2 linked regions of the Homo sapiens genome follow. The protein of the gene in region 1 purifies or fractionates together with the protein of each later gene. This does not show direct contact. Each region holds a gene or a part of one and is shown on either strand. Other genes may lie near its edges.

The links.
Region 2: the proteins of AEBP2 (region 1) and ATXN3 purify together in Homo sapiens (affinity purification with mass spectrometry; 3 studies listed by BioGRID and IntAct, with this or other methods). This does not show direct contact.

What each region holds. Positions count from the first base shown.
Region 1 is NC_000012.12:19,494,838-19,498,692, forward strand, and holds part of AEBP2 (zinc finger protein AEBP2), read left to right. Parts: intron 1-3,855. UniProt on the Homo sapiens protein: Acts as an accessory subunit for the core Polycomb repressive complex 2 (PRC2), which mediates histone H3K27 (H3K27me3) trimethylation on chromatin leading to transcriptional repression of the affected target gene.
Region 2 is NC_000014.9:92,058,052-92,061,582, reverse strand, and holds the end of ATXN3 (ataxin-3 reference isoform), read left to right. Parts: 3' UTR 1-3,031; downstream 3,032-3,531. UniProt on the Homo sapiens protein: Deubiquitinating enzyme involved in protein homeostasis maintenance, transcription, cytoskeleton regulation, myogenesis and degradation of misfolded chaperone substrates.

The sequences.
Region 1 (3,855 bases):
CTTTGCAACCTCAGAGTGTAGCTGGTCACTGCTTCTTTGTGTCAGCTGGTTAGTTTGTGGCTTTATTTTATTATTATTATTATTTTTTTGATGGGGTCTCACACTGTCGCCCAGGCTGGAGCGCAGTGGTGTGATCTCGGCTCACTGCAACCTCCGACTTCCGGGTTCAAGCAGTTCTCTGTCTCAGCCTTCCGAGCAGCTGGGATTACAGGCACCCGCCACCACGACTGGCTAATCATTATATTTTTAGTAGAGGTGGGGTTTCGCCATGTGGCCAGGCTGGTCTTGAACTCCTGACCTCTTGATCCACCCGCCTTGGCCTCCCAAAGTGCTGGGATTACAGGCATGAGCCACTGTGCTCGAGCAGCTGGTTAGTTTTAACTACATATCCTCAATGAAGAAATACCAATGGGTGAATGAGTGAATAAAGCTTTCATTGAAAGGGAGTCTACTCCAAAGGTGAATTAGAAAGAAAAAATAGATTGTACTTTACCCTTTTTCTCTGGGGATTGATTAGTATAGACAAGACTCCAGACACTAATTCCAGACTACGAAATTAGTCTGTAAAACATTGAAATCTTTTTGTTACTACAGATTTATAGCGGACAAATGAACAAACCAGAAAACTTTATATTTCGTTTTTATTTTTTTTCTACCTCATTAACTGAGAAAAGTAAACTTTCTTAAACTCTCTTAAATTTCATTCTTGCTTTTTTTTTTTTTTGATACAGGGTCTTACTCTTGCCCAGGCTGGAGTGCAGTAGTGAGATCATGGCTTACCGCAGTTTCAGACTCCTGGGCTCAAGCAATTCTCCCACCTCAGCCTCCCAAGTAGCTGGGACTACAGGCCTGAGCCACCATGCCTGGCTAGTTTTTATTTTTGGAAGAGATGGTGGGGGTCTCTCTGTGTTCTCCAGGCTGGTCTTGAACTCCTGGGCTCAAGTGATCCTTCCACTTCAGCCTCCCAAAGTGCTAGGATTACAGGCATGACCCACCATACCTGGCCTTAAGTTTCTTTTTGTTAAAGTAATCATGTTTAATTTTAATCAACGTTGGCTATTTATGGTACCATTTTCATTTTGACATCCTTTATAAAAACAGAAATTTAGCATTGCGATCATTTTACTTGTGTTAATATCAAGTAGCTTGCAGTTGCACACAGAAAATTGCTAAATATATATTATGGTACTCAAAAACCAGATGACTTTTCCACCAGTTTCACCTATCCTCATTATTATTTTAGTCTCAGTGTATACAGTAATCATTTAAATTTTCTGACTTTTCACATTATATACTTGGAAATATCTATGCAATTCGCTACTCTTTGTCTTGTAAAGAGAAGAGAGATTCAGTTAAATACCCAGTTCTTGCTTAGAAACAAAGTACTGGTGCCGGCTTAAGTATATGTTTCTTTTGACGGTGGTGTTTTTCCTCATATTAACTTAGCTAGTAAGGCAGGCTGCGTAGGGAGAGTTGGCAGAGAGAGGTGGTGGATGAAAATACCTTTTTGTCATCTGTTTTATTGAGGAGAATGGGGTTAGTCCTGAATATATTACTTTATAAACTTTAAAAAGGATCCAAGGCCTTTTCACTGTGGGGAGCCATTGTTAAGACAGTGCTGTGATTTGAATTAGCATGGTTAACAGCTGCTGCATTTCACTCTTTCTTTAAAAGCATACATATCTGTAGCAGTTAACTTTACCTAGTATCTTCCTCATGTAATTCAAGAAGACAGTTTTTACGAAACTGTGAAAAATATACCTTATAAATAGCAGCACTGCAGCAAATGTAATTTTCTGTTTGATAAAATTTGTTTTTTTTTTAACCTTTTTTTTTTTTTCTGAGACAGGGTCTCTCTCTGTCACCCAGGCTGGAATGCAGTGGTGCAATCATGACTCACTGCAGCCTCGACCTCCTGGGCTCAGGTGATTCTCCCACCTCAGCCTCCCAGGTAGCTTGGGCTACAGGCACACACCACCACACCCAACTAATTTTTGTATTTTTTTTTGGTAGAAGTGGGGTTTTGTCTTTTTGACCAGGCTGGTCTTGAGCTCTTGAGCTCAAATGGTCCACCCATCTCAGCCTCCCAAAGGGCTGGGATGACAGGTGTGAGTCACCGCACCCGGCCTGATAAAATTTATATATATACATATTTTTAATTTTTATTTATTTTTTCATTATTTTTAAAAATCTTTAAAATATATTTTTAATGCTTTTTAAATATACTTTAAAGTGGAAAGAATAGTATAATAAATACTTGTATTGCTCTTCACTTAGAGATTTACCAATATGGTACATTTGTTTTATCTTCCTACCTATATACTTTTTTGGTCATGGACCCAAAATTCTTAAGATGCATCTCCTAAGAATAAAGATATTTTTCTGCATAACCACATCATCATCATTACACCTAAGGAGAAGATAAATCATACAATATATGTAATTTTGAACCATGGGAAAATAGTTTCTATTTTTGTGGTTTCCAAAGGTGTTTTTTTTTTTTTTTTTTTTTTTTGAGACAGAGTCTCACACTTACTGCCCGGGCTGGAGTGCAGTGGTGCGATCTTGGCTCACAGCAACCTGTAATGTTAGGTTGTCAGTTTGTGATCTTTCAACCTTTTTGCTTTGTTCTGTTTTTGTTTTTTGTTTTTTTGAGACAAGGTCTCACTTTGTTGCCGAGGCTGGAGTGCAGTGGTGCAATCTTAGCTCACAGCAACCAGTGCCTCCCAGGTGCAATCAATTCCCGTGCGTCAGCTTCTTGAGTAGCTGGGACTACCGGCACACACTACCATGCCGGGCTAATTTTTGTATTTTTAGTAGAGATGGGGTTTTACCATGTTGGCCACCAAGTCTCAAACTCCTGGTATCAAGTGATCCGCCTCCTGCCTTGGCCTCCCAAAGTGCTGGGATTACAGGCATGAGCCGCTGTGTCCAGCACCAAAGGTTTTTGATTATATATCTTATTAGTTAAAAAAATACTGAGCACACAGTCTTAACGTATGTAATTTATACATTGTATACGGGTAATACTACTACTGCACATTATACAAAATTGCCAAGAAGGAATATTGAAAAAGAATGAGATGAAGAAATTAACAAGGGTATTCTATTCTTTACGTACTCTAATGGATCATGACACACACCTACTTTGGAACTACTGTTCTAGTTTGGTATTCTTGATAAATGCAGTGGAGATAGTGTGGTTAAGGTCTGAATGCATAGGCTGAAGATTGAGGACTCCTTTCATTATTGTGAATTTAAGTGATGGCTTCAATGTTTAAATTTGAGTGAGGAGTGGTTAATTTTAGTGATTTAGAGTGATGAGTTATTATTTTCCCCAAGTGTTTATTCTTAGGAAAAAGCATATATTTGGAGAGCTTGGAGAAAGTTACACATTTTTTTTCGAGTAGCCACTTATCTAACAGGAAAGTGATGTATTTCTCAGAACTCTCCCTTGCTCACCCCTGGAAATGTCAAGTACTTTTTTCTTTCTGATTTCTCATTGTCACTGCCTTCTTAGTCTTTTGGCTTCTGCTCGTTTATTACTAGTTGGTGTTTTGTTTATTTTTTCTTGAGGAAATATCTAGAGAAAAGACCTGTTTGTTTAGGTATGTTCTATTTGATGTGCCAACTGGTGAAAATATTCCCCCATAAAAGCTATGGTGGATTTGTGTAGATGTTTTGAGAACTCTTTGAATAGCCATAGTGTGGGAAATCAGCATATATGTAATTCAGAATATGCTGTACCAGGGAATCAAGCCAACTCTTTTATTAGTGAAATTGAATTTTCAATTACAGATCTTGAAAAATTACATGTATTAGTAAGCTCCACAAATGTAAAATAATCAACTTATT
Region 2 (3,531 bases), on another chromosome or scaffold:
ATTTAAACTATTGGTATCATTTTTCTAATGTATAATTTGTATTACTGGGATCAAGTATGTACAGTGGTGATGCTAGTAGAAGTTTAAGCCTTGGAAATACCACTTTCATATTTTCAGATGTCATGGATTTAATGAGTAATTTATGTTTTTAAAATTCAGAATAGTTAATCTCTGATCTAAAACCATCAATCTATGTTTTTTACGGTAATCATGTAAATATTTCAGTAATATAAACTGTTTGAAAAGGCTGCTGCAGGTAAACTCTATACTAGGATCTTGGCCAAATAATTTACAATTCACAGAATATTTTATTTAAGGTGGTGCTTTTTTTTTTTGTCCTTAAAACTTGATTTTTCTTAACTTTATTCATGATGCCAAAGTAAATGAGGAAAAAAACTCAAAACCAGTTGAGTATCATTGCAGACAAAACTACCAGTAGTCCATATTGTTTAATATTAAGTTGAATAAAATAAATTTTATTTCAGTCAGAGCCTAAATCACATTTTGATTGTCTGAATTTTTGATACTATTTTTAAAATCATGCTAGTGGCGGCTGGGCGTGGTAGCTCACGCCTGTAATCCCAGCATTTTGGGAGGCCGAAGTGGGTGGATCACGAGGTCGGGAGTTCGAGACCAGCTTGGCCAAAATGGTGAAACCCCATCTGTACTAAAAACTACAAAAATTAGCTGGGCGCGGTGGCAGGTGCCTGTAATCCCAGCTACCTGGGAGTCTGAGGCAGGAGAATTGCTTGAACCCTGGCGACAGAGGATGCAGTGAGCCAAGATGGTGCCACTGTACTCCAGACTGGGCGACAGAGTGAGACTCTGTCTCAAAAAAAAAAAAAAAATCATGCTAGTGCCAAGAGCTACTAAATTCTTAAAACCGGCCCATTGGACCTGTACAGATAAAAAATAGATTCAGTGCATAATCAAAATATGATAATTTTAAAATCTTAAGTAGAAAAATAAATCTTGATGTTTTAAATTCTTACGAGGATTCAATAGTTAATATTGATGATCTCCCGGCTGGGTGCAGTGGCTCACGCCTGTAATCCCAGCAGTTCTGGAGGCTGAGGTGGGCGAATCACTTCAGGCCAGGAGTTCAAGACCAGTCTGGGCAACATGGTGAAACCTCGTTTCTACTAAAAATACAAAAATTAGCCGGGCGTGGTTGCACACACTTGTAATCCCAGCTACTCAGGAGGCTAAGAATCGCATGAGCCTAGGAGGCAGAGGTTGCAGAGTGCCAAGGGCTCACCACTGCATTCCAGCCTGCCCAACAGAGTGAGACACTGTTTCTGAAAAAAAAAAATATATATATATATATATATATGTGTGTATATATATATGTATATATATATGACTTCCTATTAAAAACTTTATCCCAGTCGGGGGCAGTGGCTCACGCCTGTAATCCCAACACTTTGGGAGGCTGAGGCAGGTGGATCACCTGAAGTCCGGAGTTTGAGACCAGCCTGGCCAACATGGTGAAACCCCATCTCTACTAAAAATACAAAACTTAAGCCAGGTATGGTGGCGGGCACCTGTAATCCCAGTTACTTGGGAGGCTGAGGCAGGAGAATCGTTTAAACCCAGGAGGTGGAGGTTGCAGTGAGCTGAGATCGTGCCATTGCACTCTAGCCTGGGCAACAAGAGTAAAACTCCATCTTAAAGGTTTGTTTGTTTTTTTTTAATCCGGAAACGAAGAGGCGTTGGGCCGCTATTTTCTTTTTCTTTCTTTCTTTCTTTCTTTTTTTTTTTTTCTGAGACGGAGTCTAGCTCTGCTGCCCAGGCTGGAGTACAATGACACGATGTTGGCTCACTGCAACCTCCACCTCCTGGGTTCAAGCGATTCTCCTGCCTCAGCCTCCCAAGTACCTGGGATTACAGGCACCTGCCACTACACCTGGCGAATATTTGTTTTTTTTAGTAGAGACGGGCTTTTACCATGTTAGGCTGGTCTCAAACTCCTGACCTCAGGTGATCTGCCTGCCTTGGCCTCCCAAAGTGCTGGGATTACAGGTGCAGGCCACCACACCCGGCCTTGGGCCACTGTTTTCAAAGTGAATTGTTTGTTGTATCGAGTCCTTAAGTATGGATATATATGTGACCCTAATTAAGAACTACCAGATTGGATCAACTAATCATGTCAGCAATGTAAATAACTTTATTTTTCATATTCAAAATAAAAACTTTCTTTTATTTCTGGCCCCTTTATAACCAGCATCTTTTTGCTTTAAAAAATGACCTGGCTTTGTATTTTTTTAGTCTTAAACATAATAAAAATATTTTTGTTCTAATTTGCTTTCATGAGTGAAGATTATTGACATCGTTGGTAAATTCTAGAATTTTGATTTTGTTTTTTAATTTGAAGAAAATCTTTGCTATTATTATTTTTTCCAAGTGGTCTGGCATTTTAAGAATTAGTGCTAATAACGTAACTTCTAAATTTGTCGTAATTGGCATGTTTAATAGCATATCAAAAAACATTTTAAGCCTGTGGATTCATAGACAAAGCAATGAGAAACATTAGTAAAATATAAATGGATATTCCTGATGCATTTAGGAAGCTCTCAATTGTCTCTTGCATAGTTCAAGGAATGTTTTCTGAATTTTTTTAATGCTTTTTTTTTTTTTGAAAGAGGAAAACATACATTTTTAAATGTGATTATCTAATTTTTACAACACTGGGCTATTAGGAATAACTTTTTAAAAATTACTGTTCTGTATAAATATTTGAAATTCAAGTACAGAAAATATCTGAAACAAAAAGCATTGTTGTTTGGCCATGATACAAGTGCACTGTGGCAGTGCCGCTTGCTCAGGACCCAGCCCTGCAGCCCTTCTGTGTGTGCTCCCTCGTTAAGTTCATTTGCTGTTATTACACACACAGGCCTTCCTGTCTGGTCGTTAGAAAAGCCGGGCTTCCAAAGCACTGTTGAACACAGGATTCTGTTGTTAGTGTGGATGTTCAATGAGTTGTATTTTAAATATCAAAGATTATTAAATAAAGATAATGTTTGCTTTTCTATTTCCTTTTGAATTTGTGTTTATTGTTAATTCATAGCTATTCAAAGTGTGATTAGAGCTGGGCTTGGTGGCTTGCATCTACAGTTCCAGCTACCCAGGAGGCAGAAGCAGGAGGATTGCTTGAGCCTAGGAGTTCGAGGCTGCAGTGAGCTATGATCCTGCCACTGAATTCTAGCCTGGGCGACAAAACAGGAAAAAAGTATGGATGGAGGACCAGCAGCATCTGTATCACCTGTGAGTCTTTCAGAAATGCAGAGTTTCAGGCTACACTCGGACCTACTGAATCAGAACTTGCACTTTTTACAAGATCCCCAGGACACTAAAGTATAGAGTGAAGCTTGAGAAGCGCTGTTGTGTGGATTGTTCTTAACCAGCTGCAGTGATGAATATGAATAACGCAGGCCAGCACAGTCCATTGATATTCTATTCCAGCTTACTGCCTGCCAAAAGGTCCATTATTACTGGATCCTCAGTCTTTTCCAAGAGAAGCTAAGAATTCCA